Homo sapiens: one gene and its partners. The protein of the gene in region 3 interacts with the protein of the main gene of each other region in a biochemical or structural test. Each region holds a gene or a part of one and is shown on either strand. Other genes may lie near its edges.

Evidence for each region.
Region 1: the proteins of DLG4 (region 3) and KCNA1 form a complex in vitro, tested with the Homo sapiens proteins (3 studies listed by BioGRID and IntAct, with this or other methods).
Region 2: the proteins of DLG4 (region 3) and GUCY1A2 interact in a test that uses a peptide from one of them, tested with the Homo sapiens proteins (2 studies listed by IntAct, with this or other methods).
Region 4: the proteins of DLG4 (region 3) and CYSLTR2 interact in a biophysical measurement, tested with the Homo sapiens proteins (2 studies listed by IntAct, with this or other methods).

Annotation. Positions count from the first base shown.
Region 1 is NC_000012.12:4,904,450-4,912,904, forward strand, and holds the start of KCNA1 (potassium voltage-gated channel subfamily A member 1), read left to right. Parts: upstream 1-5,455; 5' UTR 5,456-6,023; intron 6,024-6,390; 5' UTR 6,391-6,929; coding exon 6,930-8,417; 3' UTR 8,418-8,455. UniProt on the Homo sapiens protein: Voltage-gated potassium channel that mediates transmembrane potassium transport in excitable membranes, primarily in the brain and the central nervous system, but also in the kidney.
Region 2 is NC_000011.10:107,015,071-107,023,319, reverse strand, and holds the start of GUCY1A2 (guanylate cyclase soluble subunit alpha-2), read left to right. Parts: upstream 1-4,843; 5' UTR 4,844-5,264; coding exon 5,265-5,567; intron 5,568-8,249. UniProt on the Homo sapiens protein: Has guanylyl cyclase on binding to the beta-1 subunit. Isoform 2 acts as a negative regulator of guanylyl cyclase activity as it forms non-functional heterodimers with the beta subunits.
Region 3 is NC_000017.11:7,193,628-7,201,373, forward strand, and holds part of DLG4 (disks large homolog 4), read right to left. Parts: intron 3,426-7,746; coding exon 3,130-3,425; intron 2,949-3,129; coding exon 2,846-2,948; intron 2,708-2,845; coding exon 2,593-2,707; intron 869-2,592; coding exon 692-868; intron 374-691; coding exon 337-373; intron 245-336; coding exon 217-244; intron 88-216; coding exon 40-87; intron 1-39. UniProt on the Homo sapiens protein: Postsynaptic scaffolding protein that plays a critical role in synaptogenesis and synaptic plasticity by providing a platform for the postsynaptic clustering of crucial synaptic proteins.
Region 4 is NC_000013.11:48,656,320-48,664,065, reverse strand, and holds part of CYSLTR2 (cysteinyl leukotriene receptor 2), read right to left. Parts: intron 1-7,746. UniProt on the Homo sapiens protein: Receptor for cysteinyl leukotrienes. The response is mediated via a G-protein that activates a phosphatidylinositol-calcium second messenger system.

The DNA of each region.
Region 1 (8,455 bases), on a different chromosome or scaffold from region 3:
GTGACTTCTGAGTTTTCCCTTTCAAGTCCTACTTGTTCTATATTACTTTTTACAATTATACTTCAAATCTTGTAAGACCCCCATTCCTCTGCTTGTGACACTGCCCTCAACAGGGTCTATAGTGAGTCCGTGGGCATATTCCTGCCTAGTATGACCACCTCCCTTCATGCCGTCTCTTGCCTTACCACTGTATAACACTTAAGAAACTGATCTTAAGAAGGACACTACATGTAGAACGAGTGCACATTTTTTCATAAATGATCATCAGGACGAATTCTATCCTGACTCACTTCCAAGTTAATCTCAGACACCCAGTGCCCAATTACTTAATTGCATGGTTCCTCACCACAAGTGAGCCCTCGGTGCTGCCAGGCAACCCTGCTACATTCCCCAACCCTTTCACTTTCCAATTCTCCTAAGTGGTTATTTTGCAGTTTTCCCCTCCCATTTCTTTTCTTTTATTTGCTTTTTTCTTTTTTCGGAGATGGGGTCTTGCTCTGTTGCCCAGGCTGGAGTGCAGTGGCTCAATCTTGGCTCACTGCAACCTCCGCCTCCTGGGTTAAAGTGATTCTCTTGCCTCAGACTCCCAAGTAGCTGGGACTACAGGTGCACGCTACCATACCCAGCTAATTTTTGTATTTTTAGTTGAGACAGATTTCACCATGTTGGCCAGGCTGGTCTTGAACTCCTGACCTCCAGTGATCCACCCACTTTGGCCTTCCAAAGTGCTGGGATTGCAGGCATGAGCCACCACGTCTGGCCACCCCTCCTATTTCTAAGGCCTCCTTCCCCATCCTCACTTTCAGCTGATGACCTTGCTTTCCTTTTTACTGAGAAAATTTCTTCTGATTGCATAGGTGAATGTCCACTAACTCCCACAACTTCTACTCAATTACTTGCAGCTGACTTCTGCTCTCTGTCTCTCTCCCATTTCTATAGAGAAATTGCCCTTTTCCAAGGCCAATCCCTTATTTTGGGTCTTAGATTCCATTCTCCTTTTGCTTTCTCAAGAACATTGCTCTGATTTTTCTCTTTCTACCACATCACTATTTCTTTTCTTTCTACTGAGTCATTGCCCTTAGCATACAAACATATTGTAATAGATTTCATCATTTTTTTAAAAAAAGTCTCATCACTCATCATCTTCCTTCAGTCTACTACCCCATTCTTCTGTTCCCCTGGGCACCAAAACTCCAAGAGCTGTTTTTACCTACTGTCCTCAGTTCTCTCTCAATCTCTTTTCAACTCAATTTTTCTAAATCTGATAGTCATTTCTATGTTCCTCATTCTACTCATCTTACTGGCAGTAAGCAACAATGTTGATATCTCCCTTCTTCTTAACATACTGTTCTCATTTGGTTTTGCAGACCCCACATTCTCCTGTTTTGTTCACCTCATCATCACTCCTTCTCAGTTTCCTTTGGTGGCTCTTCCTTCTTTTATCGACCTCTCAGCATTAGAGCGTCCCAAGGCATGATCTCTGCATATTTCCTCTTCCTTTTCTACCCTCAGGTTCAAGTGCTGTAATCTCTGTAATCTGCTACTCTGGCTTTAATTACCCAAGTGGTTCTCAGCTGAGGGTGATTTTTGCATTGTCTGGAAACACTTTTGGTTGTCACAACTAGGGGAAGGTGCTACTGGCATCTAATGGCTGGAAGCAAGGGAAGCTGCTGAATATACTAAAATCCACAGGACCACACCCCACAACAATAAAAAGTATTCAGCCCAAATGTGCTAAAGTTGAGAAACCTTGATCTACCCAGACCTCTTCTCTGAACTCTAACCTTGTATGTTTAACTTTCTACTCAACATCCTCATTTGCATATTTCTAGGTATCTCAAAGGTAACATGTCCCAAACCAAAGTTGTGATTCCCCATGCCTCAGCTCAGCTTCCCTAGAAAGCATAACCCAAGACAGGATTATGTGCGAATGCTTTAATGGGAGGTGTGAAGCCAGAACCATGAGAGGAAGAGAAAAGGAGAGTGAGACAGGGAAGGACAGGGTGCAGATCCAAGGAGAAGAGTTACCAAACTAGTTACTGCTTCATGAGTCACAAAGAGACACAGCCTTTTCATTAGACCATGTGGTTGCTTGGCCATGAAAATAATAAAGGTAGAGGGGATTTACCGACGAGCTCCATCCTAGCTTGCATCTCCCACTGGGCAAGCTCCTCTTGGTCCATTGAGCTAATGCACCCCTAGGTTTGTGTTACTCACCTAGGCCTTTTTGCAGTCTTGAGGAATCCAGATTCCACTCCTTGCAGTGCTGTCAACTTCAAGAGGCAGAACTCTGCCACCCATCGAGTTGACTTTTCCAGCAGCACCTGCAGTGGGGCAAGTGGCCATTGGACAAGACAATGGTGAGCTGGAGAGAATCTGAGGAGATGGCCTACGCTGCCCAATACAGTGACAACTAAGACACACAAGGTCTCAGACTTCAAGGAGCTCCTAAGCTGCCCAACACAGAAGATCTCAGAAGACACAGAAGATCTCAGACTTCAAGGAACTCACATCTAGGTAGGAGCGAAACTGTTTGGGACACTCCTGCAGTAAATGATATTACCATTTATCTGGTTATTAAGGCCACAAGCCTAGGAGACAGTCCTAAAACTTTTCTTTCCTCACATCCCAAATTCTGCCATCTCTATTTCAAAATGTAATTCTCTTCCAAAAACTCCTTACAAGCTCACCACAGTCTCCCTCATCTAAGCCAACATTGCTTATGCTACTTAGTAACCTCCAACCTTGTGTCTTGTTTCTAGTAGCCAGAATAATCTCCAAGAAATGCAAATCATATTGCTATATTGATGCATATCCTCCAGTAGGTTCCCATTGTACTCAGAATGAAATGAACTATTCTTACCATAGCCTTAGAGGCCCTGCATGATCTGGGCTCTGCCTGCCTTTCTGACCTACCTTTGATGACATTCTTTCTCAGTGACTTCTTTCTGGCCATACTGGCTCTCTTGTTTCCTGAATATGCTGAGTCTGTCCTTGCCTTGGGACCTTTGCTCTTACACCCATCCTTTCATCTTCCTGTTCCTTGCTCTCTCTTCTTGATGTTTTTTGTTCAAATGTTACTTCTGCAGAGAGGCCCTTCTTATCTGCAAACCTATATTTGTCACTTGCTGTGCCTGATTCTTAATTTTCTTTATCTAACACTATAATGTATGACGTATATGTTTATTGTCTGTATCTCCCACCAGAATATGAGCTCCATGAGACCTGGGACCTTATATGTCTCCATTCCAGTGCAAGGGCACCATCTGGCCCATAGCTGGGGCTGGGCAAATATTTGTTGAATTAATAAATATCTTCAGACCCTTACCAAGGGAGGACTTCCATCAAGAATGCTGAGTTCCAGTTAGCCAGGAGTGATGGCTTGTGCCTGTTGTCCTCCCAGTTACTCCAGAGGCTAAGGTGGGAGGATTGTTTGAGCCCAATACTTCAAGGTTGCGGTGAGCTATGATTACACTACTACACTCTGTCTCAAAGAAGAACAAGAGGAAGAAGAGGAAGAGGAAGAAGGAGGAGGAGGAGGAGAATGCTGAGTTCCCAGCTCACAATTTTCTTCCAGTCCCTTGGAGGTCCAGTCCTGCTGTAAACACATCTATCAGAGATGTGGAAGATTTCCTAATATGCCCCCCAATAAAACCCGGAATTTAGGAACCTGGGATCTCATCCAATCTGTGAATCCCTTGTAGTAAGGCAATCTCCTAATGCTGAGTCAGGGCACATGCATTCACAAGAAGCTAGGAAGATGACAGTCTTAGGGACATTTAAAGGAAGGCAATGGGTTATAGGAAGAGGGAGGTACAAGATAAGGACAGATAAAGTGGAGAATAGGGAAGCTCAGTAGTGCTAGGATATGGTCAGAAAACCCTTGTCTCGTAGGGTTATCCCCAGTAGGGTTCTAGCAGTGGCAGCAGCAACAAAACCAAAAGACTTGGCAGTACTTCAGCTGGGAGCTTCATATTTATATCTTTGTTTTTATTTTTAAATTTTTTTAAAAAATATATTTATTTGCATTAGAACAGCAGTGCAGAAAGGTAGGGATCCCTGGAGCTATTGAGATTGAGGGATATGCGTGTGGAAGGTGGGAAAGGGGAAGAGTTTAATATGGGAAGGAGGAGTATAAGAGAACTCATTGTTCATGAAAGAAAAGCTGGGGTACGGATCTGAAGGAGGGGAGGGAACATACACTTTTGTTTTTCTGAAAGGAATGCTGGCGTCTGAATCTGGAGGAAGGATTTAACTAGTTCCAGACAGGGACTGTTGCACTGCCTGGGCAATCCCGCAGGGGCCCCTGCTTTCCACTAGCCACAATAGAGCGGGAAGGATGCAATCATTGGCTTTGATTAAGGAGGTGGGTGGTGTAGGCGGGAGGCAACGGTGGTGAGAAGGGTGGTCCCAAGGCCGCGGGAGGAGCCAATCAGCGGCGACTCTGGGCTCTTGCAGCCTCCTTAGAGACTCCGCAGCCCTGGAGGTACCAAGCTGCCTGCTGCCTTTTCTCGCGCTGCAGGCGCGGAGATGCAGCGCCTCTGGGGGCGCAGCTCCAGCCGCACTCGCAGGGCAAGGCACACGCCCCCGGCTCCTGCTGCCATGCGCCTCTGCGGGGGACCCTTTCCAAATAAATTGCAAGCTTTGAAAGTGGCCCTGTGGAGGCACTAGGCTGGGGAAAAAGGCTGCGGGAGGAGGGACATAGGGTGGGAGGTGAGTAGGCGACTTGCTTCTCAGATTATTCCCAATTAGCACCAAGTTGGCAGACAACCCCACAAACCCACGAAGCCTTCGGTCCCCCACAAGTCACATTCCCTGTATTTCAGAATAATCGGATCGTAAGAAAACTTCAAGTCCCATCGTAGGTTAAAGAGGGACAGGCTCTTAGTACCGCCGCCGCCCAGTAAAACTACATGGAACAAACCCAGGGATCCTCATCTGCACAGCTCTGCCCAAAGTCTGCAGCTCTGCGAGTCCAGCCGGCGGGGGAAGCTGGGTGGGCCCCGCAGAGAGCAAGGGCCTTCTTGGGGGAGGAGCGGGATGGGGCGCAGAGCAGTGCGATCGAAGAGGGTTACTGTGGGACTGCACAAAAGCAAACCCGTCGGAGGAGTTTTGCCAGAAACACCACCGCCTGCATTGCGTCGGACCTGACCATTTCCAATGTGAAATTCCCGGGGAAGGTCGCGAGCCGCTAGGGGCCGTTCGTGGGCGGGGCGGCGGGCCACAGGGGAAGTAGAGTTAGCGGTCGGCTTTTCTGGTAGGAGAGGAAAAAGCTGTGCTGGCAAGGGTGGGAACTGAATGACAACCCCGCTCTCTTCCAAACCACCCCCTCATATTTTCCATCCACCTCCTCGCTCCTGCCCTCCCCCGCCCTCCCCAACCCACGCCCGGGTGGGCCAATCGCTGCTCGGTATTCCAGGCGCTTTCTCAGGTTTCTGCTGATCTTGCAGCGCCCAGAAATGGACCGAGCGGACCCGCCGCCGCACGCACCCTGCTCCACTCCAAGCTCCTAAGGGCTCCTGGCGCGCCGCGTAGCCTTGGCGAGGTCCGCGCTGGGGTGCGGAGAGCGAAGGGAACTGGAGAGCCATGTAGATCCAGGCTCTCGCCCGCCCGCCTCCTTCGGGATCGAATCAAGGGCTCCCATAGTGTTAGGAGGGGGCGAGAGTGCTGTTTATCGTCATTTGCCTCGGAGCTTCGAGAGAGGGTGGTATTTTGCTTTTCCGCCCCGCATCCTCCGGAACTCCCTGCACCGGAGAGAGGACGGCGTCTCCAGGTTGCTGGCAACCGGTGAGAATGGGGGTAGGGAAGGAACATTTTCGCCGTAGCTGCTCCGTAAAGCGATTGTCCAACTGAGAGGGGCGTCGGACGAGTGGACCAGGGCGGCGAGTTTGCCCGGCGCGTCTCGGATGCTGCTGCGGCGGCCGCCGCGGCTCCCGCCAGGGCACTGCAAAGACGACCTGCCGCATTCCCACTCGGGCTCTCCGCTGACTCAGCACCGCCCCTGCGCCAAGCCAGCCGGCCAGGTAGGGGGTTCCCCAGCTCGGGGATGCAGAAGCGGGGGTTGGGGGGACCGGGTGGGGGAGGCCGGGGGTGCGGGGATGCTGTCCGGGACCCTGAGCTTCCCCCGGCGTCTCTCGGCGCTTTTCCGATCTCTAGTTTAACGAAGTTGTAAACAGATCGGCTGTTGGGCATTGGGGAAAGTGGGATGGAAGAGCCCCAAACTTGGATTTCCGGGTGTCTGCGTGTCGTCTGTCCGTGTGTGTGTGATAGCCCTAGCAAACGTCCAGTGCTTTCTCAAGCTAGAGGTCTGTGTTCTTCGGTGTCTGTAGGTCCGTCCCATCTGAATGCTTCTGATTTTCTACCCCCGTATCACTTTCTATTTCTCTGCAGCGTGCATCGATCGCCCTGGTGGGAGCTTAGAAGGCGGCAGGCGAAGAGGGGTAGGAGGGGGGAGAGCCGAGGAGAAGCAGAGAGGGTGGCAGGCGTGGGGATCTGCCGAGCCGGCACTGCACCGGGTCCTAGGAAGGCTCTCGGAGGGGAGGGGAGGCCAGGGCGACCCCCGAAGCAATGGCCCAGTCCGCTAGAACGGCACTGCGTTAAGGCACCTGGGATCAGGAAGAAATATCTAAACAACAACAACAGAAAACCAACAAACCCCCAAACCCAAACCCAACCCTCTGCAAAAAGCTGCACCCGGCCCGCAGGCGAGGGGGATTCCAAACTGAGTGAAAGGCAGGGTGGAGGGGAAGGCAGCGAGAGGCAAAGTCGCAGATCTCCCGACCTGCTCGTGTTGAAGCACCTCCCCCTGGGCGTGAGGGAGACGCGCGCTCCGGTGGGGGGGCCGCTTGGGTCCCCCCCACCCCTGGTCCCTGGCTGCTTCCCACCCCGGGCTCTCTCCTGGCCTCCCACCCCCGCGCCCGGCTTCCACCATGACGGTGATGTCTGGGGAGAACGTGGACGAGGCTTCGGCCGCCCCGGGCCACCCCCAGGATGGCAGCTACCCCCGGCAGGCCGACCACGACGACCACGAGTGCTGCGAGCGCGTGGTGATCAACATCTCCGGGCTGCGCTTCGAGACGCAGCTCAAGACCCTGGCGCAGTTCCCCAACACGCTGCTGGGCAACCCTAAGAAACGCATGCGCTACTTCGACCCCCTGAGGAACGAGTACTTCTTCGACCGCAACCGGCCCAGCTTCGACGCCATCCTCTACTACTACCAGTCCGGCGGCCGCCTGCGGAGGCCGGTCAACGTGCCCCTGGACATGTTCTCCGAGGAGATCAAGTTTTACGAGTTGGGCGAGGAGGCCATGGAGAAGTTCCGGGAGGACGAGGGCTTCATCAAGGAGGAGGAGCGCCCTCTGCCCGAGAAGGAGTACCAGCGCCAGGTGTGGCTGCTCTTCGAGTACCCCGAGAGCTCGGGGCCCGCCAGGGTCATCGCCATCGTCTCCGTCATGGTCATCCTCATCTCCATCGTCATCTTTTGCCTGGAGACGCTCCCCGAGCTGAAGGATGACAAGGACTTCACGGGCACCGTCCACCGCATCGACAACACCACGGTCATCTACAATTCCAACATCTTCACAGACCCCTTCTTCATCGTGGAAACGCTGTGTATCATCTGGTTCTCCTTCGAGCTGGTGGTGCGCTTCTTCGCCTGCCCCAGCAAGACGGACTTCTTCAAAAACATCATGAACTTCATAGACATTGTGGCCATCATTCCTTATTTCATCACGCTGGGCACCGAGATAGCTGAGCAGGAAGGAAACCAGAAGGGCGAGCAGGCCACCTCCCTGGCCATCCTCAGGGTCATCCGCTTGGTAAGGGTTTTTAGAATCTTCAAGCTCTCCCGCCACTCTAAGGGCCTCCAGATCCTGGGCCAGACCCTCAAAGCTAGTATGAGAGAGCTAGGGCTGCTCATCTTTTTCCTCTTCATCGGGGTCATCCTGTTTTCTAGTGCAGTGTACTTTGCCGAGGCGGAAGAAGCTGAGTCGCACTTCTCCAGTATCCCCGATGCTTTCTGGTGGGCGGTGGTGTCCATGACCACTGTAGGATACGGTGACATGTACCCTGTGACAATTGGAGGCAAGATCGTGGGCTCCTTGTGTGCCATCGCTGGTGTGCTAACAATTGCCCTGCCCGTACCTGTCATTGTGTCCAATTTCAACTATTTCTACCACCGAGAAACTGAGGGGGAAGAGCAGGCTCAGTTGCTCCACGTCAGTTCCCCTAACTTAGCCTCTGACAGTGACCTCAGTCGCCGCAGTTCCTCTACTATGAGCAAGTCTGAGTACATGGAGATCGAAGAGGATATGAATAATAGCATAGCCCATTATAGACAGGTCAATATCAGAACTGCCAATTGCACCACTGCTAACCAAAACTGCGTTAATAAGAGCAAGCTACTGACCGATGTTTAAAAAACAAAGGCAAGCAAACAAAAAAGCCCCACTTAGCA
Region 2 (8,249 bases), on a different chromosome or scaffold from region 3:
CTGTATAAGAATTGAATTCTCAGAAAGGATATGACAGGGAAGAAAAAGAGAATCTAACCTTATGATGATGTATGTGGGTACATTTTTTAGGCACAAGATATATCTGGAAAGGAAATGAACAGTTCAACAAATAGAAAAATTACAGAATTTTGAGGATTGATGATAACCTAAGGATTTTATCCAACACTTTTGATTTAGAGGTGAAGGGTTTGAGTCCCAGAGCAGTTAACAACTTGATTTTGGTCACAGAGCTAGTTATCAGCAGAGAACTGTAGAACTTCTGCACATGTCAGTGCTTTTCCACATTATGTTCCAGGACATAATTCATACAAGTTAATTGTGTATTTAATATTTATTTTAATGCAATAACCCACTCACATTGTGATTTTAATTCAGCATATTTTAAAATCTGTTTTTAGGACATTTGAGGACAAGAGACAGGCAGGAAAAGTGTTTCAGTGGAAATAGCATGGGCTTAGTAGTCAGGATTGGAATTCTGACTTTAATATTTATCAGCTCCATGACATTGGAAGATATTTTAAATCTCTGTGCCAGAATTTCCATAACTTTATAATTGGAAAAATATGTCCTATTATGTTGGGATTAAGAATCCCAATTTAAATAAAGTGTATAGAGACCTGGGATTGTTGAGTATGCAGACAAAAAGGCTGAGAGTTGTAGGAGACTGTGGTGCTGATATTAGTATTCAAACTGTTGACTAATAGGGTCTCTTCTTAAGAGGAGGATGGATTCCTGTGGTGCATGGTTGAATGTAAAGCCACTTAAGGAGAGAGTAGTGTCTGCCAGAGGCACCAACATACACTGATCACCTGCCTCTTTCTTGCTGTCATGGATTTGATGCATCAAAAAAAAGTCAGTTATTACACCCTTAAGTATCTTTCTGGGTCACAAATTCTACTAAGTGTAGCATTGACTTTGTTGCTTGTCTTTCTTTCTTTCCTCCTTTCCCCCAGCCTTCTCCTCCTCTATCCTTTTTTGAGCAGCAAGAATCCTACCCCTTTGGGATGGTTTTATGATAAAATATAACTATAGGACAATGGATTACATTGTCTTCTATGTGTCCCTTTATATGTGAACACAGCAGATGGTTCTTCTCACTTTGATATTATCCTTAATATTTAGTTTTACTTACAAAATTGTGCAACAATATGAAGTACAGTATCTCTTATTTGCTGCCAGTCTTTCTCAGAGAAAGCACATTTGCCCTCCTTAATATTTAGTTTTACTTACAAAATTGTGCAACAATATGAAGTACAGTATCTCTTATTTGCTGCCAGTATTTCTCAGAGAAAGCACATTTGCCCTCTTGTAAAAGAGGGGGTATGTTAAGTGTGAGAGAGTAGACAGATCTCATTCACGAACACAAACATAGGGTTAAACTAGCAGGTGAACAGTGTGAAGTGTGTGTGTGTGTATGTGTGTGTGATTTTCCAGGTTAGGGATCCAGAAAAACTTGCCCTAGTTAAGGATTCACCAGCTACTATATTTCTTTAGAAAACTTGCTTTAATATTACATGTACAATTCCTGTGAATTGCCAGATTTATGTAAAGAATGACAGGGAGAAATTCTTCAGTCTTCTATCAGGATAGAGCTCTGCTCCAGGGAACGCTTATGCAAATCTTGCAGATTTTCTTGCTGGAGTGTTAGATGAAAAGAAACTAGTAAAGAGTTTGAACCTGGGAAACGCAAAGAATTTTGGGAAGGAGGACTGATTGTGGTTTTGATTTGAATTTGACACACGTGACTTTTCTTCAACAACTTCTCTGAGAAGGATGAAAATCAGGTTAAATGAGGCTATATAAGTGAAAGGGTTTATAAATAGGATTGATTTATGTGAAGGGAAGGCACGCACAAACAATAGTTACTTTATGTTTCAATGTAAAATAGTCATCGTCTTGACTAAAGTGAAGAATCTGTTTTTTTAGGAAGTCTTTCCCAATGCTTGATCAATCTGAGTTGTCAGGTGCCTACGCCAACTTCACAAATAAACCAAGAATATTTCTGCATTTTTCTTTTCCAGTTGGAGAGTGGCCTTTAAATACTTTATTGAAATACAATATATCCAGCAGGGCTGGATTTGTGGGTATGAGCTTGGGCAAGCTTCTTTTCCTAAAATCAGAGCACAGACTATTCATTCTCAGCAGACTACTCTTCCTAAAGTATTTAGATTGCTTTTGCTAACTGTAAGCCTTCTTCTTCTTCTTTTTTTTTAATGGAGAATAGCTATGCTTCATTTTAAAAATGTCAATTCTAGTATAAACACAGCACTCTTCATATTGAGAGCTTTTGAACCCCGCTCCTGAACAGAAATACAAAGGAAACCCTTGAAAGCAAAGCAGATGTTGTACTGGCTATATCTAGGCCTTGATTTGTTTATAGTTTAAAAATCCATGGGAAAATAATGATCAAAGGCAGGGTGTAATTCATAGAGAAAATTGTAAGACGACTTCATCTGGCTAGATTCTGTAAAGAGTCTTTGATTCAAATGGTTCACACAAAGAAAAAATGTCCCATAGGTTCAGAGTTCTTTCTGGCAATAAACTTCCAGTGTAAACAGGAAGGCTCTTGGGCCTCTTACAAATTTTAGAAACAAATGATACTCATTGCCTTGCACTCAATAATTTTGACTTTGAGACAAGAGTTGGAATGGTTAATAAAAAGTTCCAATTCTAAGTTCAATATGAAGTTTATTTGCCGTTACCATAATATTTATTTGTGTGCGCAGCAGTTTATTGAAAGAATGTGAAGGACACATGCTATTTAGTATATTTAATACTAACTAAAATCCTATAATTCGAAAGAACTTGACTATTATATAATCAGTACCAAAGAAGAGAACTAGGAACTCCAATCCTTTATGCTGATTGATACTGTGTAGCAGAAATATTAAACAATTACCCCAAAGTTAGAATAATGTAATTTTCATTATAATTTAGAAAAAGGGGCTAGTGAAACTTTTTTAGCAAAACTGATGATTTTTTATGATTAAAAGTGTAATTTGAGTCTAATTTTCAATGGACACAAATGCACATAGAATTAATTGAAGTAATGGGGAAATCAATAGTAGATGCACAACAGTTTAAATAATAATTGTAACAATTATTATTTTAAAAGAAACTTCCTCAGGATGAGAAAGAATACATATATATAAGAATATATATTATATATATTCTTTCTCATATGTATATGTATATACATATACATATATATACACACACATATATATATATATATATATATATATATAATTTGAAGGGGGAGTGTCTGAGTGATAGTACACACTTTTCTATCTTTAAAGCCCATTTAAGATCTGGGGAAAAAGGTATGTCTCTGAACCAGTTTGAGTGGATTTTTCCAAATGAAACCTCAAATAGCATTTATATTTAAGCCCTAACAAACACTTGGGAAGATTTGAAGTTAAAAGCAAATTGTGGTGGGGGTACAGCACAGGTTTTGTGGTTTGGTTTTGTTTTGCTTTTTAAATAAACACAGTCCACAAAAACCCATCTGCCTTCACCTGGAAGGACCAGTTCTTTAATTAAAAAAACGCTTTGGCTTCGGTTTCACTGGGAAACTAAAGCCAGAGCCCCTAAACTTTTCTCTCCGCAGATCGGGTGAGCTGGGGAGGGTGCTCATCCACTTCATTGCAGGGGGAAGTACAGCCTGGAACCCCTTTCGGGATACTGTCATTTGCCCCTTCTTCCCATCTCTTACTCTATCCTCAGAACCAGTATGAGAGTTTTCTGGGGCTAAGGCAAGGGGCAGTGGGGTCAGGCGCTGGAAGGACTGGTTTGCAAAGAGATAAGCTTTGGAATGAAGCCGCACAGCTGAAAACTCGCGGCAAGACATGCTCGCGCTGTGGCGAGTCAGTTCGAGAAGCATTTATCCCTACTCCCCTTAGCTTTCTGAGCAGCATTTGCAGTCAGGTGCAAACAGATCGCATATTTGGCGCAAAGAGCCCTGAGGATGAGGGACGTGGGATCATTCCCCGGTTTCCCCCGGGCCAGGTGCTAGGTCGTTTGAGGAGGAACTGTTCTCCAGTTCTCAACGCCTGCAAAGGCGGCTATAGGTGGCAAGCGGAGCTGTCCAGCACTAGTGAGGAGCCAGCGGAGCCGGGAGCCCCGCGCACCCCGCCCGGCTGAGGCTCAGCAACAGTGCTGTCTTGTCAGAGCAGACGCTGTCCTCACTGCCGCCCCTTTCTGGGCTCGCTCCGCGCCCACACGGCCTCGCACGAGGCGGGGAACACAAGTCCCCAGGAGCTGCTCCAGCAGGATGGGCGCCAAAATGTTGCCCCTGTCCTTCCCTTCCCCTGAAAGCGTCTCCTCTGGAGTGGGCTGGCTGGACGCTTGGCCTTTCCCTTTTGCCTCGGAACTTCCTAAATAAACTCGGAGAAAGGACAACATGGACCCTAACCCCCACTTCACACTGTCAGGTTTCCCCAAGGTGGCTCCAGGGGGAGGCCTCTCGCCCCCCAGCCCCGAGCCCTTCTCCCCACCAGCGCCGCCGGGACCCATCTGCTCCCGAGGGCCGAGGATAAGGCGTTTGGGGTTGGGGCCCTCAGTCCGACCCGAGCTCCTGTGCGCACCTCCTCGGAGCAGGGAGGGCGCGCAGAGGACAGCAACGAAGTGTCCTCGTTGCTCCTGAAACGTGGCGACAGGCGAGGCAGAGACTCCCAATGAGTATGATGGCGACACGTGATTCCCGCGGAGGGAGAGCATGGGGGGGGGCGGGGGGATAAAGGGAGAAGGAGGGAGGCAGGGCAGCAAGTGGAGAGAGGCGGGAGCAGAGAGGGAAAGGGGGCGAGATAGGCGCGCAGGCGGCAGAAGCCTCTGCCTCTGCCTCCCCTTCTGCTTGGGCCGCAGCCCTCCCCGCCCCGCCGACCGCGGTCACACACTCTCGGAGCCTCCCCGTGAGCGGGAGCGCGGCGCACGGCGATGCGCCGAGGCGGGCGCTGAGGCGGCGCCGCGCGAGCAGCAGCAGAGGCGGCGGCGGCCCCCAGCCCAGCCCGGCGCCGCCGCCGAGCCCGGGCCCCAAGGTGCGGCGGCGCCCCAAGTTCCCGCCATGAGCAGCCGGCTCGGGGGGCTCCGCGGCCCCGGGGACTCCCGCCCCGCCGGGCGCGACCGCAGCGCCCCGCGGCCCCGACGCGCTTAACGTTGTCGCTTGCCGGTCCCGCCACCGCCGCCTCCGCCGCCGCTCGCGTCCTCGCCGCCACCGCCTCGGCCGCTGCAGCTCCGCCGGCAGCATGTCTCGAAGGAAGATTTCGTCCGAGTCCTTCAGCTCCCTGGGCTCCGACTACCTGGAGACCAGCCCGGAGGAGGAGGGGGAGTGCCCCCTGTCTAGGCTCTGCTGGAATGGCAGCCGGAGCCCGCCCGGGCCGCTGGAGCCCAGCCCGGCCGCAGCTGCCGCTGCCGCCGCCCCGGCCCCGACCCCGGCTGCTTCTGCCGCCGCCGCCGCTGCCACTGCCGGGGCCAGGAGGGTGCAGCGCCGGAGGCGGGTCAACCTGGACTCGCTGGGCGAGAGCATCAGCCGCCTGACGGCGCCCTCGGTGAGCGGGGGGCGGAAGGGGGGACCGCCTTCGGGGGAGAGAACGCGGATCTGTAAAGTTGGCGCTGGGCGAGCCGGGGCGCGAGCGCAGAGCCCGACCGCTGGGGGGCGGCCCGGCCTTACCCTGCACGGCCTAGGGTTCCAGTGGCTCCGGCGACAGAGGATCCCCTAGGCTAGGGCGGAAGAGGGGACTACAGCACTGGGAAGGAATAAGATTCCACTCCTTTGGGGTATCCTGATTCGGGGGCCTGTCTGCCCACCTCTAGCCTTGAACCCTACTTCACCACTGTTCCCCCTGGACAGCCCCAGTGCTGCTTCACACCCACCTGTTTTCTTTCCCCTAAACTTTCCCAGGCACTGTGTTCTGCAGTTCAGCTTCCCTGTCTTTCATCCTGTTCTCCAGCATCCCAAAGGAGCCCCAACCCCTTCCAGGAAACCCTTCCTCTCCTTATTTCCCACACTCTCTTGGTCTTAGCGTGACCTTCTCTGACATCTTTGAATTCCACAGGCTATCTGCATTCTATGTTGCATCCTTTTTCTCACATCTTCAGATACTTTTTGCCAGATACTTTTCTGAGTTGCCTTCTGTTCAAGTAATCTCTAATCTCGAGTTGTCCTCACCCCGTAGCTTTTTTTCTTTTTCTTTCTTATCCACTAGGCATTTATTCTTCTCTGGGTAAACCTGGTGTCTGGATTTCTTTTTTTTTAAATTAAATTTAATTTAAAGTCCCGGGTTACATGTGCAGGATGTGCAGATTTGTTACATAGGTACCAAACGTGTGCCATGGTGGTTTGCTGCACCTACTAACTCATCACCTAGGTATTAAGCTTCGCATGCATTAGCTATTTAAACCGCTCTGTACTTCTTGCACCTGTACCTCATCCTTTACTCTCTCCTCAATGGATTCTCTAGTGCTTTCTCTCTCACATTAGCTATTTAAACCTCTCTGTACTTCTTGCACCTGTACCTCATCCTTTACTCTCTCCTCAATGGATTCTCTAGTGCTTTCTCTCTCACATTAGCTATTTAAACCGCTCTGTACTTCTTGCACCTGCACCTCATCCTTTACTCTCTCTTCAATTGATTCTCTAGTGCTTTCTCTCTCATTTTTTGGTGGCTTCTTTATATTAGGCCCTTCCTAAATATTTGTGGAATGAATAAATGCCTCTCCAAACTTGTGGTCATCTTGGGATGTCTGTATCAGCAGTTTCAGGTGTACAACAAACTCCCCCTGGTTGTAGGCATCCTTCCAGAGGAGTACTGCCTTATTCCTGCCCAGGCATTTCAGCTACCCTTGGCTTTTACCTCTTGCAGGAATGCCAGACCTCTGATCCAATCTTACCGTGTCTGGGAGAGCTCTGTTTTAAAGAAATCCACTCTGTTGCAGACAGAATTTGAAAAAGATTCAGCGTCAAACCTCCACCCATCTTTTATGCTCACCCTGACCTTGGATACAAGAGCTTTAGCTCCTCCTGACAGCACTTTCACCTGCCCACCCCTAGGACTTTTACTTTTTTAAAGTTTCCGAAATGAATCTGAACACTGATCTTGTTTGATTACTGTTGAGTCTCTCTTTTGAGATTACTACTGCAAATGATGGTAGGGGGGACCTAAGAAGGAGTGGAACCCTGAGGGGACTGAGTACGGGTACCAGACAGGTCTACAAATATTCTTGTGGCACTTGTATTAATGGAGAATGATTTTTTTCTTTTACGAGACCTGATTGAAGATGTATAAATCACTTATTACATTATTTATTTTGAACTAATTTAATTCTTAGGAACACATATTGAGAAACAGTCATCTTCCTATTCTTGTGTATTTTCGTATTTGATATATCTTTCTGCCACTTTTTCTTTCATCATTAACCTAGAAAACAATCCTCAGAATAGATTGGCTACTCTTTGCTGTTCTTCCCTGCCAATATTTCCCAGGCAGCGTAATTTTATAAACTATTTGATGTTGCAAATTGTTGAAAATATTTATTTACAACAGGAGTCCAATGACCCCGAGCGTCTGTAGGCTTGTGTCAGTACTTAAAGCAACATTTGTGCAATAAAATAGTTATTTAGTACAACAGATTCTTATTTAATGAAATGATTTTGCTAAAGATAATGATTAGTTTGGGGAGAATTGTTGATATAACCTTGGAGGTTTTTTTTTTTTTTTTTTTTTTTTTTTTTTTTTTTTTGCCTAAGAGAATTTACAGATTTCTAAAAAGTAATGTCAATGCCTCTGATAATGCTAATTTAAGCTAAGACTATTTTCAACAACTTACATGAGGAGTAGATAAAAGAAACTGAGAAATGCAGTATTTTCTGCTAGAATAAGAGGAAGGAAATAGTCTCTGATGGTTACTTTTATAAGTTAAATTTGAATGACTGGCTTTTTGCTGGATGAAAAGAATGTATCCAGAGAATGGTTTTCAGAATAAGCAATTTAAAAATAATTGTGATGATCAAATAAATGCAACAGCTCTATATACTTTCCATGCCATAGTTGTTTTCTATTATGAAAAGGGTCTGTCAGGTGGACGCTGAGAACATACAGGTGAATATACTGTAAACATTTTCAACATAACACATGTATAGAAAAATTCTCCTTGGTTAACCATATCATCAATAGACTTAGTGACACAAATAAAAGAGAGAGATTATATTTCAAAGCAGTGACTCATTTCTG
Region 3 (7,746 bases):
GCAGCAAGTGCTGGGGCCAAGGCAGGGGCCAGGGCTCACCTTCCATCTGCGTCACTGTCTCGTAGCTCAGAACCGAGTCTTCTCGACCTGGTGGGAGGTGGGGCATCTGCAAGGGGCTCTGAAACAGGGGACCTGGAGCCCTGTCTCCCCCTTGAGGATATCAAAAGCAACTCAGTGCTCCTCTCACCCACATCTTCCCGAACTAACCCTACCTACCCTGCGATCCAGAGCTGGAGCCCCAGTCCTAAGAAGAAAAAGCAGGCCACGGGGTTAGTTATGAGCTCAGCTCCATGAGCCCTCACACTTCCACCCAGGCTCACACCCTCCTCCACCTACCTTGGCCTTTAACCTTGACCACTCTCGTCGCTCAACCCTGTGGGATACATGGAGGGATACGCGGGTAGGGGAATGCCTACCCCCTGCCACCCCCATGCTCTGAGCCAGCTGACAACCCCTTCTCCATACTCTGGGCCAGCTGACACCCCTTCTCCTGCAGCCCTGGACACTGTGCTCCTCAATAAGGAGTTGTCCTTCCCAAAGGCTCATGGGAGCCACGGACCCCAGGAGGGCCCAACAGACAAACCCCTAGGAGTTCAGAGGGCAAACCCATCCCCTGTTGGCTGCCCACCCCGGGGGACCTTGGGAACTTCAGTGCCTGTGGCAGGAAGGCTACAGAGCCCAGGAGCCTCACCGCCGTTTGCTGGGGATGAACCCAATGTCGTCGGTCTCACTGTCAGAGTGGACCCGCCGTGCCTGCCACCACTCCTCATCACTAGCATCGATGACATGCAGCACATCCCCAAAGCGGAAGCTCAGGGCCTGGCTCAGGAAGCCGCAGTCCTTGGTCTTGTCGTAATCAAACAGGGCCCTGGAGGGCAAGTGGCTATCGGTCAGAGCCCAGCTGAGGACTCCAGGAAGGATGCCCCAGTCACCCAAAGACCCGGCCCAGAGGTCTGCAGATGGCACTCCCATGGGAGCTATGGATGCCGAGGAACCCAAAACTGTGTGGGGACCAAACGCTGACTATAACTCATAACAACTATTAGCCATCACTCAGTCCACACTGAGCACAGTTTCCAGAGGCAGGGCTTGAACTTGACCCTCTCAAGAAAGCAGTTTGGGCCAGGCGTGGTGGCTCCCACCTGGAATCCCAGCTGACTTTGGGAGGCCAAGGCGGGCGGATCACAAGGTCAGGAGATTGAGACCATGGTGAAACCCCGTCTCTACTAAAAATACAAAATATTAGCCGGGCACGGTGGCGGGTGCCTGTATTCCCAGCTTCTCGGGAGGCTGAGGCAGGAAAATGGCATGAACCCAGGAGGCGGAGCTTGCAGTGAGCAGAGATCACGCCACTGCACTCCAGCCTGGGCAACGGAGCGAGACACCGTCTCAAAAAAAAAAAAAAAGAAAAAGAAAAAGAAAAACAGAAAGCAGTGTGCAGTACACACGCACATCATAAAGTCACAGGGGTAACCCTGAATCTGCCCAAATTCATAAGAAAAAGAAAATGTCCCGTGTTTCCAAATAATGGTTACCCTTACCAGTATCAAATTTCTATCAGTAAGTCACAACCCCTGGGGTCAGAACCAGGGAAGTAATGAAGACACAGAAGAAAGCAATGGGCCTGGAGAGGAGGGAGGAGACCCCGGGCCCCCTGGAAGTGTGACAACCAGATGACATTCCGCCTGGGAGCCACTACACAACCTCTGTGGTCACTGGGAGTCAGAACAACCTTGGGGACCAACCGGACCCGAGCAGGGAGGAAGGGCAGAGCAAGGGCTCAGGTGGGAGCCAGTGTCTGGGTGGCTGGTGATGCCATCCAACAAGAGGGAAACTGCTGGCACAGCAAGATGGAACCCAGGCCCACAGCAGGATGATGAGCTCAGCGTGGGACATGTTGAGTGTGGGACGCCTGTGGGACATCCCAGTGGAGATGGCCAGAAAGCCAATGGCCAGAAGTGCAGGTCTTGACCTCTGGAAATAGGTCAGCCAGGGCCAGCACCTCCGAGAGACATCTGCAGAGCGCAGCGGCAGACGAGGCCATGCAAGCCACAGGGCCAGACAGGGACAGAAGTGGAGGGGTGACCCCCGGGGGCGGGAGAGAGGTGTGTTTTGGCAGAAACCTAAGCCACAAAAAGAGTCAATGGAGACGAGCCCTAAGAGGGGAGCAAAATGCCGCTGGAGAGACGGGGGCAGGCACCACAGAGCTGCGGCCCACGTCTCCGGGACTGCCCACAGGGACGTGAAGGCTGGGGCAACACTCCAAATACCCTAGAGGACCCTGCTTCACCAAGCATTAACCTTCGAGACGCCAAATTGTGGGGTGGCCTGGGAGTCCCGGGGAAGTGCTGGGATGACCAGGGGCTAGAAGGCAATTGGGATACTTGGGGCAGAGGCTATTTTCCCATCGACAGGGAGTATTTCAAATGTTAACCTGTGCAGCCAAGCCCATGAACCCTGGCTGCGCCTCAGGCCTGGGGTGGGGAGCTAGAGCAGGCAGGGTGGAGAAGAGGAGCGGCTGAGGCCCGGGCCAGGCACAGAGTGCCCAGGAACGCAGAGGGGCTGAGGAGTCCAGCCCGGGAAGCCTCTGACCTGATGTAGAAACCCCTTTTGGGGTTGCTCCGCAGGGACGCAGTCCCTGAGCCCAGGCTGCTGTTCATGAGCTGTTCCCGAAGGTCGTGGATCTTGGCCTCGAATCGGCTGTACTCTGAGGAAGGACAGGGAGGTTTCTGAGCTCTGTCCCCATCCTACTGTCACCCCTGTCCTCCCCTACTGAAGCCATCAGCTGAGGAAGAGTTCTAAGGGCCATTTCAGCTCACAAGACAAGGAACTTCCGGCCTGGTACCTTCTGGTTTATACTGAGCGATGATCGTGACCGTCTGACCCGCATTCTTCAGGGCAATGGCAGCCTGCTCATGGCTGGCATTTCGGAGGTCCACACCGTTGACCTAGAGAGAGGACGACAGGCTGTGTCACCAGAGACAGGAGGCAGCACTTCTGGGTCCAGGTGGAGCAGGGAGTGGTCCCGCAAGAGGACTCGGCTGCAGCCCATCCAGGCCCCTCCCCAAGAGCTCTGCGCTCTGCCCTGTGGGGAGGGGGTGGTGCAGGTAGGGGCAGGCCTTCCCTCACCGACAGGATCTGGTCCCCCTTCCGCAGCTCCCCACTGAGGTCTGCAGGGCCCCCGGCCAGGATAAAGGAGATGAAGATGCCTTCACCGTCCTCGCCACCCACGATGTTGAAGCCCAGGCCCGTGGAGCCCCGGTGGATCACAATTCGCCTCGGTTCTCGGGGAATGTCTTCCTCCCCGAGCAGGTCCTTGGCCACTGGAGAGTAGCGCCGAGGGGAAGTGGGGGTCATGGCTGTGGGGTAGTCGGTGCCCAGGTAGCTGCTGTGACTGATCTCATTGTCCAGGTGCTGGGAATAAGCTGAGGAAGACAGGGCAGAGATGAAAGTGCCTGGAGGGAAACAGCACCCGCCACCCAACCTTCTCCCCAGGGTGCCAGAAGAGCCAAAGTTAGGTGGAAGGGAAGATATTCTGCCAGAGATGCCAGGGTGGGGTGGTAAGGGGATATCAGATCACAGTGACATCAGGGGTCAGGAATTTATAGGTGACATCAGAGGCTGGTTGTCCTAGGGGATAAAGGATTTGAACGTTATATGTCCTCAGTATGCCAGGGATGGGGAAGTCAAAGGGAGCATTAATATTACGCTTTGGGGGTTTTCTCTGGGTTCCTGTGTCACTCGAATCTCTTAATCCATAAAATTCTTCTCCCTCTTTTTTCCCCCCACCTCTCTGCCATCCATTCGTTGAAAAAACTAGGTCATTTGTCTAAAAGAATTTCCCACATTCTATGAGGGAAATTCTTTTGTTTTTTTGGGGTTTTTTTGAGAAGGAGTCTCAGGCTGGAGTGCAGTGCCGTGATCTTGGCTCACTGCAGCCTCTGCCTCCCAGGTTCAAGTGATTCTCATGCCTCAGCCTCCCAAGTAGCTGGGATTACAGGCGCGCGCCACCATGCCCAGCTAATTTTTGTATTTTTAGTAGAGACAGTGTTTCACCATGTTGTCCAGGCTGGTCTGGAACTTCTGAACTCAAATGATCCACCCGCTTATGCCTCCCAAAGTGCTGGGATTACAGGCATGAGCCACCTTGACCAGCCTATGAGGGAAATTCTAACAGGGAAATTACTGCTTACCCTCCTGTGGTTTGTTTAGCCTATGCCTCTGCCCCTGTATCTCCTGTAAACTGGCAGTTCATTCTGGAGGCTTGATCAGTTTCAAGTTCAATTCAGAGTTTTTTTTAGTAACTCCTGTATACTTCATAGGTAGCGCTACGTTCTTCCTACAGCATCACCACAGGATGCAATAATGCCTGGTTGTCTTTCTGTCAGGTAAGATTAATGGTAGGTTCAGGGTCATCAGCCCAGTCCATCCATTATCTAGCGCCCCATCAGCCTTTCAGGTAAGTTTTAGCCACACTGACAATCACCGCCTGGTTCTGATAAGTATCAAGGACTGCAAAATGGTGGTGATTGTCATTTACTAGTGGGAATTCTTCTGTAAAAAAGAAAAATCTCGACCAGGCACGATGGCTCATGCCTGTAATCCCAGCACTGTGGAGGCCAAGGCAGGCAGATCACTTGAGGTTAAGACTTTGAGACCAGCCTGGCTAACATGGTGAAATCCCGTCTCTACTAAAAATACAAAAATAGGCTGGGCGTGCTGGCTTACGTCTATAATCTCAGGTACTCGGGAGGCTGAGGCAGGAGAATTGCTTGAACCCAGGAGGCGGAGGTTGCAAGGAGCCAAGATTGTGCCACTGCACTCCAGCCTGGGTGACAGAGCGAGACTCCCTCTCAAAAAAAAAAAAAAAAAATTCCTCCAGCTTGGGTAACATGGTGAAACCCTATCTCTACAAAAGACAAAAGTTGAAAGTTAGCTGAGGCTGGGCGCAGTGGCTCACGCCTGTAATCCCAGCACTTTGGGAGGCCGAGGCAGGTGGATCACAAGGTCAGGAGTTCAAAACCAGCCTGGCCAAGATGGTGAAATCCCATCTGTACTAAAAGTACAAAAATTAGCTGGGCGCAGTGGCAGGGCCCTGTAATCCCAGCTACTCGGGAGGCTGAGGCAGGAGAATTGCTGGAACCCGGGCGGCAGAGGTTGCAGTGAGCCAAGATCGTGCCACTGCACTCCAGCCTGGGTGACAGAGTGAGACTCCATCTCAAAAAAAAAAAAAAAAAAGTTAGCTGAGCATGATGGCACTCGCCTGTAATCCCAGCTACTCGGGAGGCTGAGGTGGGAGGATCGCTTGAGCCCAGGAGGCGGAAGTTGCAGTGAGCCAAGATCACACCACTGCACTCCAGCCTGCTGGGTGACAAAGCAAGACCTGCCTCCAACAAAAAAAAAGCAAAAACAAAAACAAAAAAACAGCCCTATGTCAACCTGTTGGTTACTCTCTGAGGTAGCTGGTACATGAAAGGGAGGATAAATGCATGCCTCTCTCTGCATGCCTCTTTCCATTCATTCACCAATTTCAGAATGAATGAGATTGCCTAGCATCCTCCAATTTTTTTTTTAATTATTTATTTTTTTGGGATGGAGTTTCACTCTTGTCGCCCAGGCTGGTGTGCAGTGGTGCGATCTTGGCTCACTGCAACCTCTGCCTCCCAGGTTCAAGGGATTCTCCCACCTCAACCTCTCCAGCAGCTAGGATTACAGGCACCCACCACCACGCCTGGCTAATTTTTTGTATTTTTAGTAGAGACGGGGTTTCGCCATGTTGGGCGGGCTGGTCTCGAACTCCTGACCTCAGGTGATCCGCCTGCCTCAACCTCCCAAAGTGCTGAGATTACAGGCATGAGCCACCGCGCCCAGCCAAAATATTTTTAAGTATTATTATGATCTTAAAGATTTTAATATATTTAACGAGTTTTCACTGGACAGTAGAAGCACCTTCAGTTTGGATCCTGTGTCTTTGCTGAGACCCTATTAGTCCTGGATACCTTCCTTGCTCTCTAGTATGAAAGAAGTTAGAAGCTCATCTTACAGATTTATTGCCAAAGATTTTAAATTGGCTGGGCACGGTGGCTCAGGCCTGTAATCCCAGCACTTTGGGAGGCCGAGGTGGGGGGATCATGAGGTCAGGAGATCAAGACCATCCTGGCTATCACGGTGAAACCCCATCTCTACTAAAATATACAAAAAAATTAGCCAGGCGTGGTGGTGGGCACCTGTAGTCCCAGCTACTCGGGAGGCTGAGGCAGGAGAATGGCATGAACCCGGGAGGCGGAGCTTGCAGTGAGCCAAGATCGTGCCACTGCACTCCAGCCTGGGCGACAGAGCGAGACTCCGTCTCAAAAAAAAAAAAAAAAGAAAAGAAAAAAAAAGATTTTAAATTGACCCTTCTTCCAAGGAGCCCAGGTTCCTTTTGTTAGGTTATGGTATTTAGGAATAGTACCACATGATTTTAATATGGTTTTACAGTATTATTTCATATTTTGTAGGGGCTGCCACACCTCATTATTTGTTTCCAAAATGTCTTAGCTTTTCCACACAAATTTTTCCAGTCAAACTTTAGTGTCAACCTTCCAAGTTCCCAGTAGGGAAACAACATTAAAATTCTGATTAGGATTGAATGGAATGTAGATTAATTTGGAGCCGGTTGAGATCTTTAGCATATTAAGTTTTTCCATCCAGAGACACGGTGTGACTCCTCACCCCTTCCAGTCTTGTTTTATGTCTTTCAGTAAAGTTTTGTCATTTTCTTCATACAAATCTTACATTTCTTGTCAAGTTTCTATTTCTAATAATTTTATAGAAATTTTTTCTATGGCAAAAGGGGGCTTTTTATTCACTACATTTTCTTATTGCTGGGAAGTTACTAATTCCTGTTATTTATCTTACAAATAGCCACATTCCTTTTTTTTTTTGTCGTTTTTTGAGACAGAGTTTCACTCTTGTTGCCCAGGCTGGAGTGCAATGGCGCGATCTCAGCTCGCCGCAACCTCCGCCTCCCAGGTTCAAGCAATTCTCCTGCCTCAGCCTCCTGAGTAGCTGGGATTGCAGGCATGCACCACCATGCCCGGCTAATTTTGTATTTTTAGTAGAGATGGGGTTTCTCCATGTTGGTTAGGCTGGTCTCGAACTCCCAACCTCAGGTGACTCACCCATCTCGGCCTCCCAAAGTGCTGGGATTACAGGCATGAGCCACCGGCGCGCCCAGCCTGTTTTGGTTTTTTTTTTTTTTTTTTTTTGAGATGGAGTCTCGCTCTATCGCCCAGGCTGGAGTGCAGTGGTGAGATCTTGGCTCACTGCAAGCTCCGCCTCCCAGGGTCAAGGAATTCTCCTGTCTCAGCCTCAGGATTAGCTGGTATTACAGGCGCTCGCCACCACACCCAGCTAATTTTTTTTTGTATTTTTAGTAGAGACAGCGTTTCTCCATGTTGGCCAGGCTGTTCTCAAACTCCTGACCTCAGGTGATCCGCCCGCCTTGGCCTCCCAAAGTGTTGGGATTACAGGCATGAGCCACCTCGCCCAGCCAACAAATAGCCACATTCTTAACTTTGCATATTTTTCCAGTTAATTCACTTAGATTTTGATCTAGATGCACAGTAGTATAATTTACAAATAGAGATAACTTTTGTTTTTCCCTTCCAAATGTAACTATTCTCCTTGTCTTGTTACACTGTCTGAAATCTCTAAAGCAGTGATTCTCAACCACCATAATTTCGCTGGGGCAATTCTGTCATA
Region 4 (7,746 bases), on a different chromosome or scaffold from region 3:
GAAAAATCTTTTGATAAAATTTAAGCTCACTTCATGATAGAAACTTCTTACAATTAGGTATAGAAGGAAAGTACTTCAATATAACAAAGGCCACATGTGACAAACTCACAGCAAACATCTTACTAAATTAGAAAAAGTTGGAAGTTTTTCTTCCAAGAACAGGGACAGACAATGATGCTTACTCTCACCACTCTTATTCAATATAGCACTGGAAATCCTAGTCAGAGTCATTAGGCAAGAGAAATAAATAAATGGCATTCATATTCAAGAGAAAGAAGTCAAATTGTTCCTGTTTACAGATGATAATCTCATATATAGAAAGACTCTACCAAAAACTCTTAGAACTAATAAATCATTCAATAAAGTTGCAGGAAACAAAATTAATATACAAACATCAGTAGTGTTTTCTACACAAACAATGAACTAGCTGGAAAAAAAATATCAAGAGGGCAATCCCATTACAACAGCTACAAACAAACAAAAAACAACCTTAGGAAGAAATGTAACCAAGGAGGTGAAAGACCTCTACAAGGAAAACTACAAGACACTGATGAAATAAATGGAAGAGGATACAAACAAATGGAAAGACAACCCATGCTCATGGAGGAGAACTAATATTGTCAAAATGACAACACTATTCAAAGCAACCTACAGATTCAATGCAATTCCTATCAAAATACCCATGACATTCTTCACATAAATAGAAAAAAGTTCTAAACTTTGTATGGAGCCACAAAAGAACCCAAATAGCTAAAGCAAACCTGAGCAAAAAGAACAAAGCTGGAAGTATCACACCACCAAACCTCAAAATACACTACAGAGTTATAGTAACCAAAATAGCATGTTACTAACAAAAGCAGACACATAGGCCAATGGAACAGAATAGAGAATCCAGAAATTAATCCAAATATCTACAGCAAACTGATTTTTGACAAAGGTGCCAAGAATACTCATTGGGGAAAAGACAGTCTCCTGAATAAATGGTTCTGGGCAAACTGGATGTCTATAGAAGAATGAAACTAGGCCCAAACCTCTCACTCTACAAAATTTAACTCAAAATGGATCAAAGACTTAAATATAAGACCCAAAATGATAAAAACTACTAGAAGGAAACATGGGACACACATTTCAGAACACTGGTCTGGGAAATGATTTTGTGAATAAAACCTCAAAAGCACAGGCAACAAAAGCAAAAATAAACAAATGGGATTATCAAACTAGAAAGTTTCTGCACAGCAAAGGAAGCAATCAACAGAGTGAAAAGATAACCTACAGAATTTGAGAAAATATTTGCAAGCTACTAATCTGACAGGTGACTAATATTCAGAATATACAAGGTACTCAAACATCTCAACAGCAAAATATTCAATTTTAAAATGGGTAAATGATTTAAACAGACATTTCACAAAGAAGACATTCAAATGGTCAACAGGTATATGAAAAAATGTTCAACATCACTAATCATCAGTGATGATTTTGCAACTCAAAACCACGATGAGGTATCATCTCACCCCAGTTAGGATGGCTATTATCAAAAAGATGAAAAAACAAATGTTGGCAAGGATGTGGAGTAAAGGGAACTCATGTGTTGTTGGTGGGACTGTAAAGTAGTATAGCCACCATGGAGAACTATATGGAGGTTCCTCAAGAAACTAAAAGTAGAATTACCATATGATCCATCAGTCTCACTTGTGGGTACTTGCCCAAAAGCTTTGAAACCAGTTTGCCTAAGAGATGTCTGCACTGACATGTTTACTGCAGCACTATTCACAATAGCCAAGTTATGGAATCAACCTAAGTGTTCAACAACAGATGAATGGATAAAGAAAATGTGGTATATATACATAATGGAATACTATTCAGCCATAAAATGGAATGAAATCTTGTCATCTGTGGCAACAAGGGTGGAAATGGAGGACATTATGTTAAGTCCATTGTATTTCCTAAACCAGAAACAGAAAGTCAAACACCATATGTTCTCACTCATATGTGGAATAGTAAAAAAAGTTGATCTCATAGAAGTAAAAAGTAGAACAGAGGAAACCAGAGGCCTGGAAGAGTGGGGGAAAGGGAGAGATTTGGTAAAGGATACAAAATTACCACTAGATGAGAGGAATAAGTTCTAATGTTCTATACCACTGTAAGATGGCTCTAATTAACAATAATGTATTAAATAGTTTCAACTAGTTCAAAGGAGGATATTGAACGATCCCAACAAAAGGAAATGATAAATATTTGAGATGATGGATATGCTAATTACCCTGATCTGATCAATATACATTACATGTATAGAAACATCAATATATACCCCATGAATATGCAATTATTATTTGTCAATTTGACAAATAAATTAAAATAAATAGAAGTGTTCACAGGAGACAGTTGGTGTAAGGTAGCAGGCCACATCTGCCACTTACTGGCTGTGAGATTTTGCAGAAGTGACCTATCTTCTCTGAGCCTCAGTTATGCCATCTATAAATGGCATAATAAATGTGAGTTGTCTCATACAGGGTGAGCGCTCAGTGATGTTAACTATTATTATTAAACCTCAGAATTGGGACCTAGAACAAGCATTAAGGAGGCAAAATTTTTGCAGGGCACTAGTAAATATATAAAAACAAGGCTGAGAAATGATTTAATGATAAAAAATGGTGAGAAGCATGACAGGTGTTGCTCTCAGCTGCAGGGAAGCAGTAACAGAGCAGCAACCTCAGGATTTAAATCCTGATTTGTTCACGGACTACCTCTATGACCATGGGAAAATGACTTTATCTCCCTCGGCGTCAGCTCCTTATCAGTAAAAGGGGGTAATGCGGCCAGGCAAAGTGGCTCATGTCTGTAATCCTAGCACTTTGGGAGGCTGAGGCAGGAAGATCGCTTGAGCCCAGGAATTCAAGAGCAGCCTGGGCAATAGAGCAAGACACTGTCTCAATAAAAAAGAAAAATTAAAAAAAAAGATTAATTTAAATAAATAAATAAAAGAAAGGGGTAATGCTAATAATAGTTCTTACTTCATAGGGTTGTAAGGATGAAGTGAGATAATACATGAATGGCACTTAGGTCAGGGCCTGGACCAGAGAAAGTGCCATATTAAGTGTTAGCTGTTGTTATTGCAAAGGCTGACAGAATAAGCTCTCTGAAGTTGTGCAGAGAGGATTCTGCAACACATTTGTTCCTCAAAATCCCAGAGGCCTCAGAGTGCTGAATTAACACGGCCCTCCAGAACAGGGAAGTATCACTGAGAGTTTACTCTTGAGACCCAAGCTGACAACTCAGAGTTTATTTGTAACAGGCTCCAAATGTCATGTCAGAAATGCCAAGCTTTCTAGACCTTCCTGGCCTTCCAAGAACGGTCTTGTGCTTTCAGAATTTTTTTTTCAAAAAGTCAAGGTGAATTAAGTTCTTGGAGATCAAAACAGAAACACAGATAAAAGGAACTGAAATTGTGACATATTTTGAATGTGAAACGGAGCTGGTCTCTGAGCTTCCAGAGGAAGTGGGATGGAGGGGAATGAATCTCACAGGGCCTTGTTTTCATGGACTCAGTGCCTTGGAGAATTTTGCTGCACTGATTTTTCCTCTACCCGGTCACCCACAAAGTGCCTCAAGGAGCCCCCAAAGTATGAGTCACTTCATTGGCCACCAGGCTGGTGACCCTTTGCTTTCTGAATGCCATTTATTTCCACATGCCACTTAACCATGAAGTCAGCACTTTGGGCCATTGGTGAAGAGTTTTCTGGCAGATCTACTGTTATCTCCCAGAGAACAACTTATCCCCAGGGATGTAGCAGGGATTGAAACCTAGCAGAAGTTTGGCATCCAAACATGCCAGGGGACACCTCTGCCCTCAAGAACAAGATGTACAGCATTACCTCAGACCTCCTTCTTCCCACCTCTGTCTTTACTAATTCTCCTTGTTTCCTTCTTTAATAGACTCCAAAAGCTAGCTTCTCTTGCACATTCATCCTACCACTAACATTCAGCCACCAAATAAACAAACAAAAATTCAACTCAACAAAAACATCATATATGAAGAGCCCTGAGCTGCTTAGAGATATGGCTTCATTTTGTTTAAAAACATTATTTTGACTAAATGTTGCCCTCTCTCTGGCTCTCAAAACTTTCCTCAGCTCTCCTTGGTTAATATAACACATGAGTCTATGATGCTGATTATGAATTTAATTTTCGTAAAAATCTCAACAATATGTTTTTCATTTTCTAATGCACTTCATCCTTGTATTTAGAAAGGTTGGCGGTATCTATTATTCACCAAATGTCTGATCTAAGGAAGACCACAGAATCACAGAATTGTTTTTTATCTGAGTCTCTGATTTCCAAGACAGAAGAACAGCAAGTGTTATCATAGAAACATTGTCCTGTTTATTCCAATAAATCCCTACGGATTGATCAACATTAGGGTCCTCCCTGTCCATAATCAAGGTAACTAAATGACATGACTCAGGAGCTCCTCACAAGCCCATTTATTCAAATTAAAACTCCCTCTCATTCTCATTTCCCCTAGACAGCATTTCATATTCCATTATTAAATTCAATTCTTAGAGAAAAGAAATTATTTACAAAGGTAGTTTGTTAAACATCATGTGTATTTCCTAAAATGACATAGAGACATTGCGATATCATGGAAAACCTCTGGAATAAATCCCAACTGAACCCAAATCCTAGCTCTTCCTTGTGCAAACTGTGTGACCATCAGAAAGTACTCAACATCTCAGAGTTATTGAGAGGACCCCAGGAGGCAGCACAGGTGACAGCCAGGGATGCAGCTACACTTTGCCTGGCACCATGCATTGTCATTCCTGTTGCCACCCCACCTGCTGCCAGTGGCATGGGGGCAGTGGGTATCTGAAATCTAAAGGAGAGAGGGCCAGGAGCAAAAGTAAACCATGGGCTCTCCTCCTCTCCTGCTTGTCCTGCTGCCCAGTGTCTCCTCTGTGGCAGACCTGGCCTGTTTACCCAGCAGCCTCCATCAACTTCCTCCTTTCATCTCAGTGGTCAGCTCAAGACCGGCCTAGTACAGGCTGTCATCTTTCACCTGCACAATGGGCACAGCCTCCTCAATGGCTCCCTATCTCCACTCTGGCTGTTCTCAATTCATTTTTCACACAGTGGCCAGAGTGACCTTTCCAAAATGCATATCTGACCACATTACTCTTCCACTTAAAACCCATTATCATCTCAGAGTCAAGTTCATCTCCAGGCTTTTCATAGTATTGATCTTGTTGTCCAGCATATTCTCTCCCCACCATCCCCTCAGTAAAGGACACTCAGTCTCATGAAGCTTATTTCAAAACCCCCAACACTGCAGGCTCTCTCTTGCCCATTTCTTCTGAGCTCCAGCTCATTTCCTGGCTATTGCTTACCCAGTCTCAGGTTTCTTTCTAAACATCACTTTCTTCAGAAAAAGTCTTCTCTGATCCCTCCATGTCTTGGCTGTTTGCAGACCCTTGGGTTTCCCATCCAGCATTTACTCCAGGGGCAGCAGTTGTCTCCTGTCTATCCCTACCCACCAGACTGTTTGCCCATGGAAGGCAAGCACGTGTCTACTGCTGTACCCCAGGCCCTAGCACAGCGTGAAGCACATGAATGTGCTCAGATCAATAAATGAGCTAATGAAGCTGTTATCCAACACCCTCATTTTATGCCTTACAATTAATATCTTTTTGGGGGGCGGGAAAGAACTCACATGGTTTTTATAATGAAATGATGTTAATGTGTTTTTCCTTGAAAATTTTCTTTTCCTGAAATTCAAATCTAAAGTCTGGGAAGAGGAATATAGGGTAAATGGTCAATGGCATGGCATGGGAGCAGAAGGCAGCCACAGAGGGTACCCAGATGGTGCTCTGTTCTAAACACTGTAGGAAGCAGCACCCTTTATATCTTGGAGGGTAGCAGACTGTTTCTCTGACTCTGTGCCAACAAGTTCCCAATAGGGATTTGTGCCTCTTACAACTAAAAGGGAGTCACCTTCATATCTCTCAGTGAATTTACAAAGGAACAGTGAATTTACAAGAGATTTACATATCTCTCAGCGAATTTACCTTATTTTTAAGGTAAGACTCAAAATAAAGAGAAACCAGCTTACTTAAAAGAATCTGGGATACAATGTTATTCAGGTGATGGTTACCCTAAAAGCCTTGACTTGACCACTACACAATTTATGCAATCTATACGTCTAATAAAATTGCATGTGTAATCCATAAATTTATACAAATTTAAAATACTTTAAAAATAATAATTTGACAAAAGAGAAAAAAGAATCTAGGATGCCTTCAAATACTCTTTAGATGATTGTTTTTCTGTACTAGAGGTACAAACAAGGTACGATGCTGTTTCTACAGCCTCATGGCAGGAGACTTACGTGGGAAATTATCTTTTTTATAATAAATTCTTATTTATATAATGTACAATGTAGGTAATAATGGTGGACTAAATTATTTTAATTTCTCCCAGCTTAATTAATATTTAAACTTCCAGAGTAAACCAGCTCCCTTCCCCTCTTTTCCTCTCTCCTTTTCCATCTCTTTCCCTCCTCTCCCCTCTCCTCTACTTCCCTCCTTTCTCTCCTTTCTTCTGTTCTTTCTATAGTCTGCTTCCTGTACTTTTTTGAAACCTCTCCGTTAAGGACTTTACACTAAAGAGGCAAAAAAAACTCTGCCTCTGGTCCCAGCTCTTCCTAAGGACCCTTCCGACTTTGGAATTTCTTGACTCCAACTCACTGCTTAGACCCTTATCCTGGGCCTCTCGAATAATAACTAGATTTCTTTGTCAAAAGACTGACTGTACTGCCACAAAGTCATCAATCCATTGGAAGAGGTTTTCCTTTAAATTCTGTCAAGATTATATTTTCTCCATGGGTCAATTAATATAAAGAGGTTAATAAAGTTCAACAGAGATAAACATTAGCTGTAACTAATAAAGTCTGCATTCATTGGGTGAATTGATTTATTTACACAATGCCTTTATTCTCAATGGAGTTTATGTGCTAGGTTCTATGCAATGACTCCAATGTCAGAGTCTTGGTCCAATAGAACATACTGTACATAAGTAACTGCAGTACAAAGGAGGCAGTGGCCAATACCCTGAGAAATAAAGAAATACAGTGCTAGGGGTTTCTGACATGGATTTCAAAAAGCTCTCTAGCAACGCTGAGCACCCACAGCAAAATGCTTGCCTTTCTTTGTATTATCCAATTTGGCTGCCGCATTAGCCAGAGTTCATTGGGTAATTGCACAATCCCTTGTGAGGCTTTTATCTTAAAGGCTTACCCTTGGGGAACTAGAGTGCCTCAGATATCTGGTGCACAGAGCAAACTATAGAAAAGCAGAAAGGATCTTTGATTCTGGAGTACACAGGAAATGCTAACGATGCCCAAGGTAACCATCATGTACTCATGTACACAGCAATGAGTACACTGAAAAAATATATCATCTTTCCTCCAAAATGGAGGCTGCTCATGTGATCCCAGGTGGATAGGAGGCAGAGTGATATAATGAATGAAAGCATGTGCTTTTGAGTTAAAAGGGACCTGGGTTTAAGTTTCAACTCTGCCTTTTAGTCTCTTTTATTACTGCAGCCGTCTGAGCTTCAAACTCTCATCTGCCAAAGGAGCACTGGAGTGAGTATTGATGAAAAAAAAATGGATGTTAAGTGATTAACTTGGTGCCCAACACATGTGAAGAGTTCAGTCAGTACTAGCTAACAATCACAATAAGATTTGTGACAATA